2 separate regions of the Homo sapiens genome follow, and region 1 is linked to region 2. Evidence: fine-mapped expression QTL. A gene starts in region 2. The other region holds a variant in brackets. All regions are shown on one strand. Distances are from middle to middle.

The links. PIP is the estimated chance that this variant, and not a neighbour inherited with it, causes the effect.
Region 1: its variant is the best candidate, but not a certain one, in a credible set for the expression of MAPKBP1 in sun-exposed skin (GTEx, PIP 0.88).

Annotation. Positions count from the first base shown.
Region 1 is chr15:41,801,259-41,806,630 of GRCh38, reverse strand. All of the region lies in intron 3 of MAPKBP1 (mitogen-activated protein kinase binding protein 1), which reads right to left. Among named protein-coding and RNA genes, the nearest start is that of JMJD7, 24 kb to the left of the region's middle. The variant C/G (reference allele first, on the strand shown) is at 2,167.
Region 2 is chr15:41,772,457-41,777,810 of GRCh38, reverse strand. MAPKBP1 (mitogen-activated protein kinase binding protein 1) reads right to left here and starts at 3,327. Exons shown (of 31, transcript NM_014994.3): 1 at 3,201-3,327; 2 at 2,422-2,644. The coding sequence starts at 2,535. RefSeq lists an enhancer at 3,831-3,880.

The DNA.
Region 1 (5,372 bases), 29 kb before region 2:
AGGCCTCAGCCTGGGGGAGTCACGCTGTGGAGTACCAGTGCCAGGTGCTGGGCCCACTGCCCAGGAAGGGCCAAGCCTTCAACATCCCCCTTCCCTACACAGGTCCAGGCCTGCTGCTACCACAAAGAGCCCAGGATTCCCATAGGATCCACCTCCTACCACTCTCCATCCCCCAGATGGGATGAGCTATGCATGGGGCAGCACAGACACAGGGAGCAGGACACACAAGGTCAACCAGGGACCCTGGGCCTTTGAATTGTTTTCTTTCAGACCAGGTAAAATCTGAGAATGACTCACAGAAGCATGCCAAAGGGGCTTCTGGCCTCGCTCAAATGTCGCCCTCCAGCCCTATTTATCATTACAACCCTACCTCCGTCACTGCTACCGCTTCTACTGTTTCCAAAGCACACATCAATTTGTAATCACGCTTATAACTTACACTGGGGGTGGGGATCCATCTTCACACACCAGACTGCCAGTTCTGTGAGGATGGTATTTTTGGTCTGTTTTACTTACTGTTAATTTCCCAGGGCCTAGACGATAGGCCCTCAGTAATTATTTGTAAACAAGTGAATATGTCTTCAAGTCACTAGGGGCAAGATCTCAAAGCCCTGGCTGCCAAGGAACCTCCTGGGTAGCAGAGTGTGAATGAGGGCCCTGGGGAGAGGTCCATGGTTCTCCTGTACCTCAGGCATTTAGGACTCCTTGATGCTCAAGGGCAGTGTAGAGGTGGAAAGAGCAGAACACTGAGGTCACAGGCCTGTCTGCTAACACACTGCATGATCCTGGGCACCAAGTCCCAACCTTTTCTTCTCTCAGGCCCACCTGGTCTCTCTACTGTCCCTGGCGAATACCCTACAGCAAGTAAGAAGGTAGCTCTGTGTTCCTTCAGCTCAGGTGTCACGAGAACACAGTTCAGGAGGAGAATTCTGTCACACCCAGTGCAATGCTTCAAAGCTGAGGATCTCAGAATCAATTTTAACATGGGCTGAGGAAATGGAGGGCCTCCTCAGGAGAGCAGGGGTTCCCTCTTCTCCTCCCCACTTAAATCAACCAAGAGGTCTCTTCTTAGCTGCCAGATACACCCCGTCACCTTGCTGGGACACTTCCCATCCCAGCGGGAGAGGAGCAGCTGTGCGCAGGGCACTCACCCAGGCCATTCTGGCATAGGAGCCAGGAGAAACCCATTCTCAGGACTGGGCACAGGGGCACAGGGGCACAGGGGCTGTGCTGGGCTTGAAGGCCCATCAACCTTCCACCAGCTGGCTGAGGAAAAGGCCCAACTCAATTAAGGGTGTTCAACTCAATTAAGTCTCTCAAAGGGGCTGTCTGGCATCCTCTAGTAGGGGGGCTTCCCGTGGGGAAACAACGGCCAAGGGATGTAGGAGCCACTAGGACAGGCTCCATGCTCAGCCTGGAGCTCCTACCCACCTCTGCCTGACACACTGCCCACCCTCCTTTCCTGTGCTGTTCCATTTCCTTTCAGAAAACTTTGTTTTGGTTTGATATTCGCCTCCGGGCCTCAGAGAATTTTCTGAGTTTTGTTTCTCTCCTTGTTTCTAGGATACCTGAGCTGGCTCCCAAAGCAACAGGCACAGGAGGAACAAGAGCGTGGGGGCTGGGGGCAGTGTAAGGATGATCAGATAAGAAAAGCAGGGAGACAAGGAGGGAGGTGAAGAACCTGCTTGTGCTCACACAGAATCTGGTGGCCCCCAACATCACAGCAGCACATCAGGGAGTTCTAGAACACAGCAAAACTCAAACACCCAGAAAAGAAGCCATTTGCACAGACAACTTCAAGTTCTAAGAAATCAAAAGGTCAGGGAACAGATTAGGGGCACTGCCCAGGGATGGCCTAAGCCAAGCATACACGCTTAGGAAACCTACTAGAGGTTCCATCAGGAAAGCCTGTACACCATCTGGAAGGATCATGACTCCCAGGCACATGCACTGGGCTGAGACCTGCTCATAAACATGCATAAGCACATGCCCTTAAAGGCCAGGCCTGGAGTCCAGGGGTGTGTGAGGAAGAAAGCGGGCAGGACTCCACACTCTCCAGGGCAGGGACACAGGTCTCAGCATGCACCAAGCAGCACCCCAAGGCCTTTTTTGCCTGTGCTACATCCAGCCCCAGCCCCACCTCCAACAAGAGGGAACCTGGCTTTC[C/G]CAGGCAGAGGCAAGAACAAGTGGAATTCCCCTGAGGCAGGCTGCACAAACTTATCCAGTAGAGAGGTCTTTCCATCAGCTTGCTTCTCTAGGGGAAAATGGAGCCTAGCCCAGCCTTTGCCAGGCAGAGCCCGTGTGGCTCCCACAGCACCCTTACTGCAGCCATTAAACACCAGAGGACCACTTGGGAGAGACACTGACCCCAAACCCAGGGGCAGAAGTCTCCCTTGCACAGACTGAGCTGCCCATAAATGGGGCTCTTCTCATTCAAAGGGCAGGTAGGCAGCTTAGAGGAAAAGCAATTTGTTAAAAATAAGCAGAAAGTGGCCGGGCACAGTGGCTCACACCTGTAATCCCAGCACTTTGGGAGGCCAATGTGGGCAGATCACCTAAGGTCGGGAGTTTGAGACCAGCCTGACCAACATGGAGAAACCCCATCTCTACTAAAAATACAAAATTAGCTGGGCATGATGGCGCATGCCTGTAATCCCAGCTACTCTGGAGGCTGAGGCAGGAGAATTGCTTGAACCCAGGAGGCGGAGGTTGCGGTGAGCTGAGATCGTGCCATTGCACTCCAGCCTGGGCAAGAAGAATGAAACTCTGTCTCAAAAAAAAACAGTGTGGTCTCCCCCTACTCTGTGCCATTTTAACAATCAGAGCTCTACAGTCATACTACTTGGGTTAGAACCCCATTACACACACTAGCTATGTTACCTCAAGCAAACTCCTTAACCCTTTTGGTTTTTTTAAGAGGCAGGGTTTCACTGTGTCACCCAAGCTGGAGTGCAATGGCACGATCATAGTTCACTGCAGCCTTCACCTCCTGGGCTCAAGCAATCCTCCTGCCTCAGCCTCCCCAGTTGCTAGGACTACAGGCACATGCCACCATACCCAGCTAATTTTTTTTATTTTTACTTTTTGGTAGAGACAGGGTTCTCACTATGTTGCCCAGGCTGGTTTCAAATTCTTGGTCTCAAGCAATCCTCCCACCTTGGCTTCCCAAAGCCACTGCACCCTGCCTGCTTAACCTTTTTTTTTTTTTTTTTTTTTTGAGATGGAGTCTTGCTCAGCCGCTCAGGCTGGAGTGCAGTGGCACGATCTCGGCTCACTGCAACCACCGTCTCCCAGGTTCAAGCGATTCTCCCAGCTCAGCCTCCCGAGTAACTGGGACTACCAGCACCCGCCATCACGCCAGGCTAATTTTTGTATTTTGCTAGAGACAAGATTTCACCATGTTGGCCAGGCTGGTCTTGAACTCCTGACCTCAGGTGATCCGCCCACCTTGCCCTCCCAAAGTGCTAGGATTATAGGCGTGAGCCACTGCACTTGGCCTGCTTGACCTCTTTGGATCTCAATTTCCTCCTCTAAAATATGAGGGTGATAATAGTTGCTCAGAGTATTAAATAATTCATATAAAGTGCTTAAAAAGTACCTGGCATAGAATAAGTACAGTCATACGTCACATAATAACATTTTGGTCAACAGCGAAGGGCATGTATGACAGTAGTCCCGTAAGATTATAATGGAGCTAAAATATTCCTGTCACTTAGTGACATCTTGATGATCCTGACCCTATGTAGTTCTATGCGCTAGGCTAATGTGTGTGTTTGTGTCTTTGTTTTTAACAAAAAAGTTTAAAAAGTTAAAAACAACATTTAAAGCTTATAGAAGATAAAAAGAAAATACTTTTGGGTCAGGCACAGTAGCTCATGCCTGTAATGCCAGCACTTTGGGAGGCCAAGGAGGGCTGATCACTTGAGGTCATTAGTTCAAGACCAGCCTGGCCAACATGGCGAAACCCCATCTCTACTAAAAATACAAAAATTAGCCAGGCGTGGTGGCAGGAGCCTGTAATCCCAACTACTCAGGAGGCTGAGGCAGGAGAATCACTTGAACCCAGGAGGCAGAGGTTGCAGTGAGCTAAGATCGTGCCACTGCATTCCAGCCTGGGTGACAGAGGGAGACTCCATCTCGGAAAAAAGATAAAAGAAAGATATTTTTGTATAGCTGTACTGTGTTTGTGTTTTAAGCTAAGTGTTACTACAAGAGTCAAGAAGTTAAAAAAAAAAGTTTATAAAATGTAAGAAAGTTACAGTAAGTTAGGTTAATCTATTATTGAATGTATGTTTTTAAAATAAATTTAGTATGGCCAAGTGTACAGTGTTTGTAAAGTGTACAGTAATGTTTCTGGCACTCACACTCACTCACCACTCACTCACTGACTCACCCAGAACAACTTCCAGTCCTGGAAACTCCATTCATGGTAAGTGCCTTATACAGGTGTGCCTTTTTAAAATATATTTTATATGATATTTTAACCATACTTTTTCTATGTTTAAATATACAAATACCATTGTCTTAGGATTATGTACAGTATTCAGTACAGTAACCTGCTGTGCAGGTTTGTAGCCCAGGCGCAACCGGCTACACCATGTAGCCTAGGTATGTAGTAGGCTATACCATCTAGGGTTTGTGTAAGTATACTCTGTAATGTTCACTCAACAACGAAACTGCCAAATGACACATTTCTCAGAACATATCCCCATCATTAAGTGACACATGACTGTACTTGATTGATAAAGGTAGCTTTTTTTGGTGGTGGCTTGTTTTTTTTTAAGACAGAGTCTCTCTTTGTCGCCCAGGCTGGAGTGCAGTGGCGAAATCTGCACTCACTGCAACCTCCACCTCCTGGGTTCAAGTGATTCTCATGCTTCAGCCTCCCAAGCAGCTGGGACTACCAGCACCCGCCATCACACCCAGCAAATTTTTTTATGTTTTTAGTAGAGACAGGGTTTCAACATGTTGGCCAGGCTGGTCTCCAACTCCTGACCTCAAGTGATCCGCCCACCTTGGCCTCCCAAGGTACTGGGATTATAGGCGTGAGCCACCGGGCCCAGCCTGATAAAGGAAGCTTTTTTGATGAGGTGATAAAACTAAGCAAATCATGTATCTAGTATAAAAACTATAAAAGTTGCTATGAAAATTACATTGGGGAATGAACTAGGCATTAACAAGTTAATGGTAGAGTAAGAAAGGTACAGCAGTAGCGCTACTCATTTTCACATTCCTGTGCCTATCAGCATGGAACAGAGTGAGCCAGAAGCAGGAGGGGTTCCAAGCTTTCTCCAGAAGCCTGAAGAAACTATGGTTGGAGGTTTCCCACTTGTAGGAGCAGAGGAGTGAAAAGGCAGCAAGAGAAAGAATAG
Region 2 (5,354 bases):
ATGAATCACAAATTTCCTGTTATCATGATTACTCACAGCCACCACATGTTAGAGCAACTCACAGAGCTTAATACACTAGAGTAATCACAAGGCAGGCTTTTAGAATAATCTCAGGTAGAGACCTTTTACTAAGGAGTGTGGGGAGTCTGGCATCTCTAGGGTCCTGGGCGCACAAAGACAGCTACTCCTCTTGGGTGCTAAAGATATGCACCAGTCATTTTGCTGCCAGACCATTCAAGGGTCATTCAACTTCAGCTAAGTATTTCTTTCATACACAGCTTCAGGACAGACAAAGCCATCTAAAGCAGTCTGAAGCACTGAATTCCTATTTTAAACAGGGAATGGTAAATGGTCTTGCCAGGGATGCCCCTTTTCCACTGTTTTCCTGGAGAGCTCTTCTCCACCTGCCTTAGGACTCACAGTTCAAGCATCCCTTCCTCTGTGAAGCCTTTCCTTTTTTTTTTTTTTTTGAGACGGAGTCTTGCTCTGTTACCCAGGCTAGAGTGCACTGGCAGGATCTGAGCTCACTGCAACCTCAGCCTCCCGGGTTCAGGCGAGTCTCCTGCCTCAGCCTCCCGAGTAGCTGGGATTACAGACATGCACCACCACGCCCGGCTAATTTTTGTATTTTTAGTAGAGATGAGGTTTCACCATCTTGACCAGGCTGGTTTCGAACTCCTGACCTAGTGATCCATCCGCCTTGGCCTCCCAAAGTGCTGGGATTACAGGGGTGAGCCACCATGCCTGGCCTGTGAAGCCTTTCCTAATTCCTCTGAACTGACTTAGGTCGCCTCCCCTGTGCTTCCATTAACAACGTACACATACTTCTACAGCAGCACTTACCACACCGTGTTTTAATTGTTTACATGTCTGACTAGCCATAAGCTCTTTGATGGCAAGGGTAATGTTTTACCCATCACTGATTGCACACTTCATAGGCACTCAATAAACACTTGTTAAATGCATTAATAATGGATGATATTGGAAGTCTTAAAGAATGGCAACTATACTTTCTGGATTCCAGACCAAAATTACAGTAAGAATTAACAATGAAGGCTAAACTCTCATTATATGTTTCTACTACATATATCATTCCTGGCCAGAAAAAGAGGCCAAAGATTGGAGAAGATTGCTCTAACAGTGCTGGTCACTGCCAAGCTACCAGCCAAGAATAAGAGCACTTGCAGTATTAAGAATGAACAGAGTCATATCTAAGGCAATTTCTACATTTCAGGCTTCTTTGCCTGCCTCAGGAGAATAGAAACAATGATGAATAAGAGACCTTGGAAGGGTCACAATGTCCACCATCACAAAACCTTGTAGCAAACTGTGATTCAACACAACTTCTGCTGAAATATACAGGAAAGCTCTTCACCTTCTTACCAAATCTACTCAAAGTTCTGCTAAGGAACACAGGGCTGAACTAAGTCCTCCCAGAACCCTGCCATTTGTACAGTGGCATTCTAAATCATTCCTCATGGGATTTACTCATCACTGAAGAGATACAGGCAAAGCAATACAATGCTGTGGTCTCAAATGCCTCTCCCTGTAACAACCTTGTACCTCACAACCCTATTGGGTTTACAGGCTACTAATAAGACACAAAATCTGATCTGATCCTGTGGGAGTAAAGCCCTGGATTCCCTCAAGGGATTAAATAAATGTCGACTACTTCTGGATTCCCAAAGTTGTGGGGTTTATTTAGTTGAAAAAGCATAAGGACCAAAACACAGACAAGTGAAGCGATGGAAAGGAACTTTGCCTCTGAGGATCATCTGCAGCTGAGTGGGATGTGGCTCTTGGCATATAGTGAATGAGATAAGCAATGCTCAAGGGCCATCCAGAACTGTTTTGCTGACAGATATCTGGCTTCTTGCATGTTATTCCTAAGAAGCCAAAAGGCTCCAGTTAGCCTCTTGAAGAGACAAAAAAAATTTGTTTTCACCGTAGGCAAGAGCAATTACCAAGCCAGTAACTCTGACTAGGTGTTTTAGCATATTTCTTTCTGCCACTACAGTCTTACATAACCCCAGCTGTTACGTTAACACCTGCAGCTACATTAGTCACAGCTTAGCCCTTCACAAGGTATGTGTTCCTACTGTCCTCTCCCAAGAAGGGAAACTGAGTCATAGCATATCAACTGGCTTCCCAAGCACATGCTTAGTGTATAGTGAGGCCACAATTGAACCCAGGTGGTCTTCCTACTATTCACCTTTTCTCATGGATGAATCTCAGCATGCCCACCCCTGCTGCTCTTTTTCCTTCAACCTAAAACCAAATCATTGCCTGCAGAGATCATATGTGATCCTTTAGAGTCAACAAGGGCTTCTAGTTATCTTTCCCAAGAAACAGGAAGGTTAACGAGGAACATGGAGCAGGAGAGGGTGGGTTTGGAAAGAGGTGGATCCCAACAGGACTCACCTTGGAGCTGAGGTCCTCTCGTCGGTTTCCTGCCTTACTCCTGCGCAGTTTGATGGATGGAGATCTCAACAGATTCTTGATCCGGCTGGTAATGGTTGACCCTTCCACAGCCATTATGACGAGAAACCCTTTGGGACAGTCCCCGGCCCAGTCCTGGGTCTTGTCTCAACAGCGGCACTGTCTTCCCACTCCAGAGGGCTTCCCAGTATGCCCTCTCACTGACCTGAGATGGCAGAAGCCACCTTAGTATCACAGTGTCTTACCTTCTGCCTAGCGAAGTCTGCAGCTTTTACCTCTGGGTATTGCTCTCACCATTTCCCTCATCCCCACCTTCTAGCCCTGCACAGTTTCTTACAACGTCGGAAGGAAAGGCTCACGAAAAAGGGGGGGAAAATCCTAAGCCACGAAGAAATGCCAGGCCCACGCCCGCCAGAGGCGTTTAACTGGCGAGATGGATGGGATGGGCCCCAGTTGGTCTCGTGGACGATCTGGTTCCCGTTAATGCCCAACTGTTCCCATGGCAACTGTAGTGTCCAAGGGAGGAGGCCGCCGAGACCACCAGGGATTTCCGCAGGCCTGGACACCTGCGCTAGCGCCGGCGGGGACGCGGCGGGGCTCGCCGTAGCCCACAACTCGTTCTGCCACGGGAGCCTCCCTCCCCCACTCCCTATCCTCCAGAGCTCGCTCTCCGCCCTCCACAGCGGCTCTGGACCTTTATCTTTCACCCGCCTCTGAGGCCCCTGCTACTCGTCAGCGCCCCCGTTCGGGCCCAGCCTCACCAGCCTCGGCGAGCTAAGGCCACCCCGCTCACAGCGCCCTCGGGCATCGCGTTCGGCAATTTCAGCTCCGCCGCGGTAGCCGCAGCGGTAGAGGCAGCAGCAGGAGCTATGGTGGCACGATCGGCTCAAAACGCGAACTACCGCCTGGGCCAAGCCGCGGGCTGGGTGGGCGGAGCCGACGCGAGGGGCGCGGCCTGTAGTCAGGAGAGCGCTTCCAGAGTGGACGAGCAAGGTTTACGGGGGCGGAGCCAATGAAAGGGCCCAGGAAGCAGACGGCTTGGGACTAGGGAACCACGGAATCCGCACAATTGCGGGTACCGCTTTTAGAGGAAGGTCAACAGAACATGGCTTCAGAATTGAGAGAACCAAGCCTTTTATGGTATTATCAGGCCTGGTCCCCCATGGAACTGCACTTCCCAGAGCCCCAAGACGATAACCACGCCTCCAGGGTGTTAAGGTTGTCATCTGATAGGCCCGAGGGACCGTAGCTGAAACTCCTAGCTCAGAATTACAAGACTGAGCTACAGCCTAAAAGCTCTGCTCCCAGCGACCACAAGTGTTGAGATTTAAAGCGACTGAAGTAGTTTCTGCTCGCAGCCAGTCCGGCACGTAGACTCAACGTGGAAAGGATTATTCTGAGTAATGCAATTTAATAGCTAAGAACAGTATTTTTGCACTGGGCAACCTGGTCATCATGAAAGGGGAAAGGGTGGCCTTGAACAGAGCTTTGGGCGTGCGGGGGAAAGAGAAGTGAATATGCTATGTTATAATACTTTAGGTTTCATGGCTTCTTTAGCCTCCAACATCCCATTGTGCTTCCTCACCTAAAGCTGACCAGGACTTTGTTGCTCCAGATCTTTTCCTCATTCCATTTACTTATGAATCCTTTTATCTAGGGCTGTTCCTTGCTGAGGTCACTGTCGAGCTTGCTGATACTAGATCGAGGGGTAGTTTTCTAACTCATGTCGGGGGAGGCAGAGGGAATACACGGAAATGTTACATGAAATAGTATTTCCTGAGTATTCTCCACTTGACTACTACCACAAGAAATCACCTTATGAAAAAGCCTAAGCCAGAGACTTGGGTCCCAAGGGAATAGTACACTGGTGTGTCCGTCTCACCCTATCCAGATCTTTTGAATCCCTGTGGAGATGACATGTGTCTGCAAGAGGGAAGAACCTCTAACAAATTATTATACCTTATGAAAAAGCCTAAGCCAAAGACAAGGGACCCAAGGGAGTACTACACTGGTGTGTCTGTCTCACCCTATCCAGATCTTTTGAAACCCTGTGGAGATGACATGTGATAACAAGAGGGAAGAACCCCTAAACTCATTGCTTGTGTACAACGGTGAGCCTTTAGAGCCAAGTGGCAAAGCACATATTTTCTTGTGTATACTGTAGCCACGTACTGAAAATTAGATTTGTAAAGCTCACAAGTTGACATGGAGATGATGGATGTCACCTCCTGGAGACCAACTGGCAATAGCACGTGGCCTTCTTCCCTTCAACCATGCACTGCAAATATTATGAAACAGAAAATACGATTTTCAAATTTATTTCCCAAGTCTGGAAGAAGAAGGCAAGAACCATTAGCTACAATATGCAAGAGGTAGTTGGTTCCTTCAACCTCTTGGTAGTTACATGATGGGACCTCTCCATGGGATTGAAAGCTAATAAATGGTGCCACCTGGTGTCTTTACTTGCATGCTGCAGACCACGGCAGATGCCATCTCCACCCATGAAACTAGAGTAAAAATGTGCCCACAAGAGCCGTCCCTAATCCTCTCCAGATCATTCTGGTGTCCGCTAACGGTTTTCTCACCTGATCACTCATGGCCAGATAAATGGTTTACAAAGTATCACTGGTCATTTCTTTCATGAAAAACAACTGAAAGCATTTTAATGAGGATTTCTTAAGTCTGGAATCTGGGTACTTCCAGTCTTAGGCCAAAGCCACGCTTTTTTTTTTTTTTTTTTTTTTTTTTTAAACAGAGTCTTGCTCTGTCCCCAGACTGGACTGCAGTGGCGATCTCAGCTCACTGCAACCTCCGACTCCTGGTTTCAAGCCATTCTCTTGCCTCAGCCTCCCGAGTAGCTGGGATTACAGGCACGCGCCACCACACCCAGTTAATTTTTGTATTTTTAGTAAAGA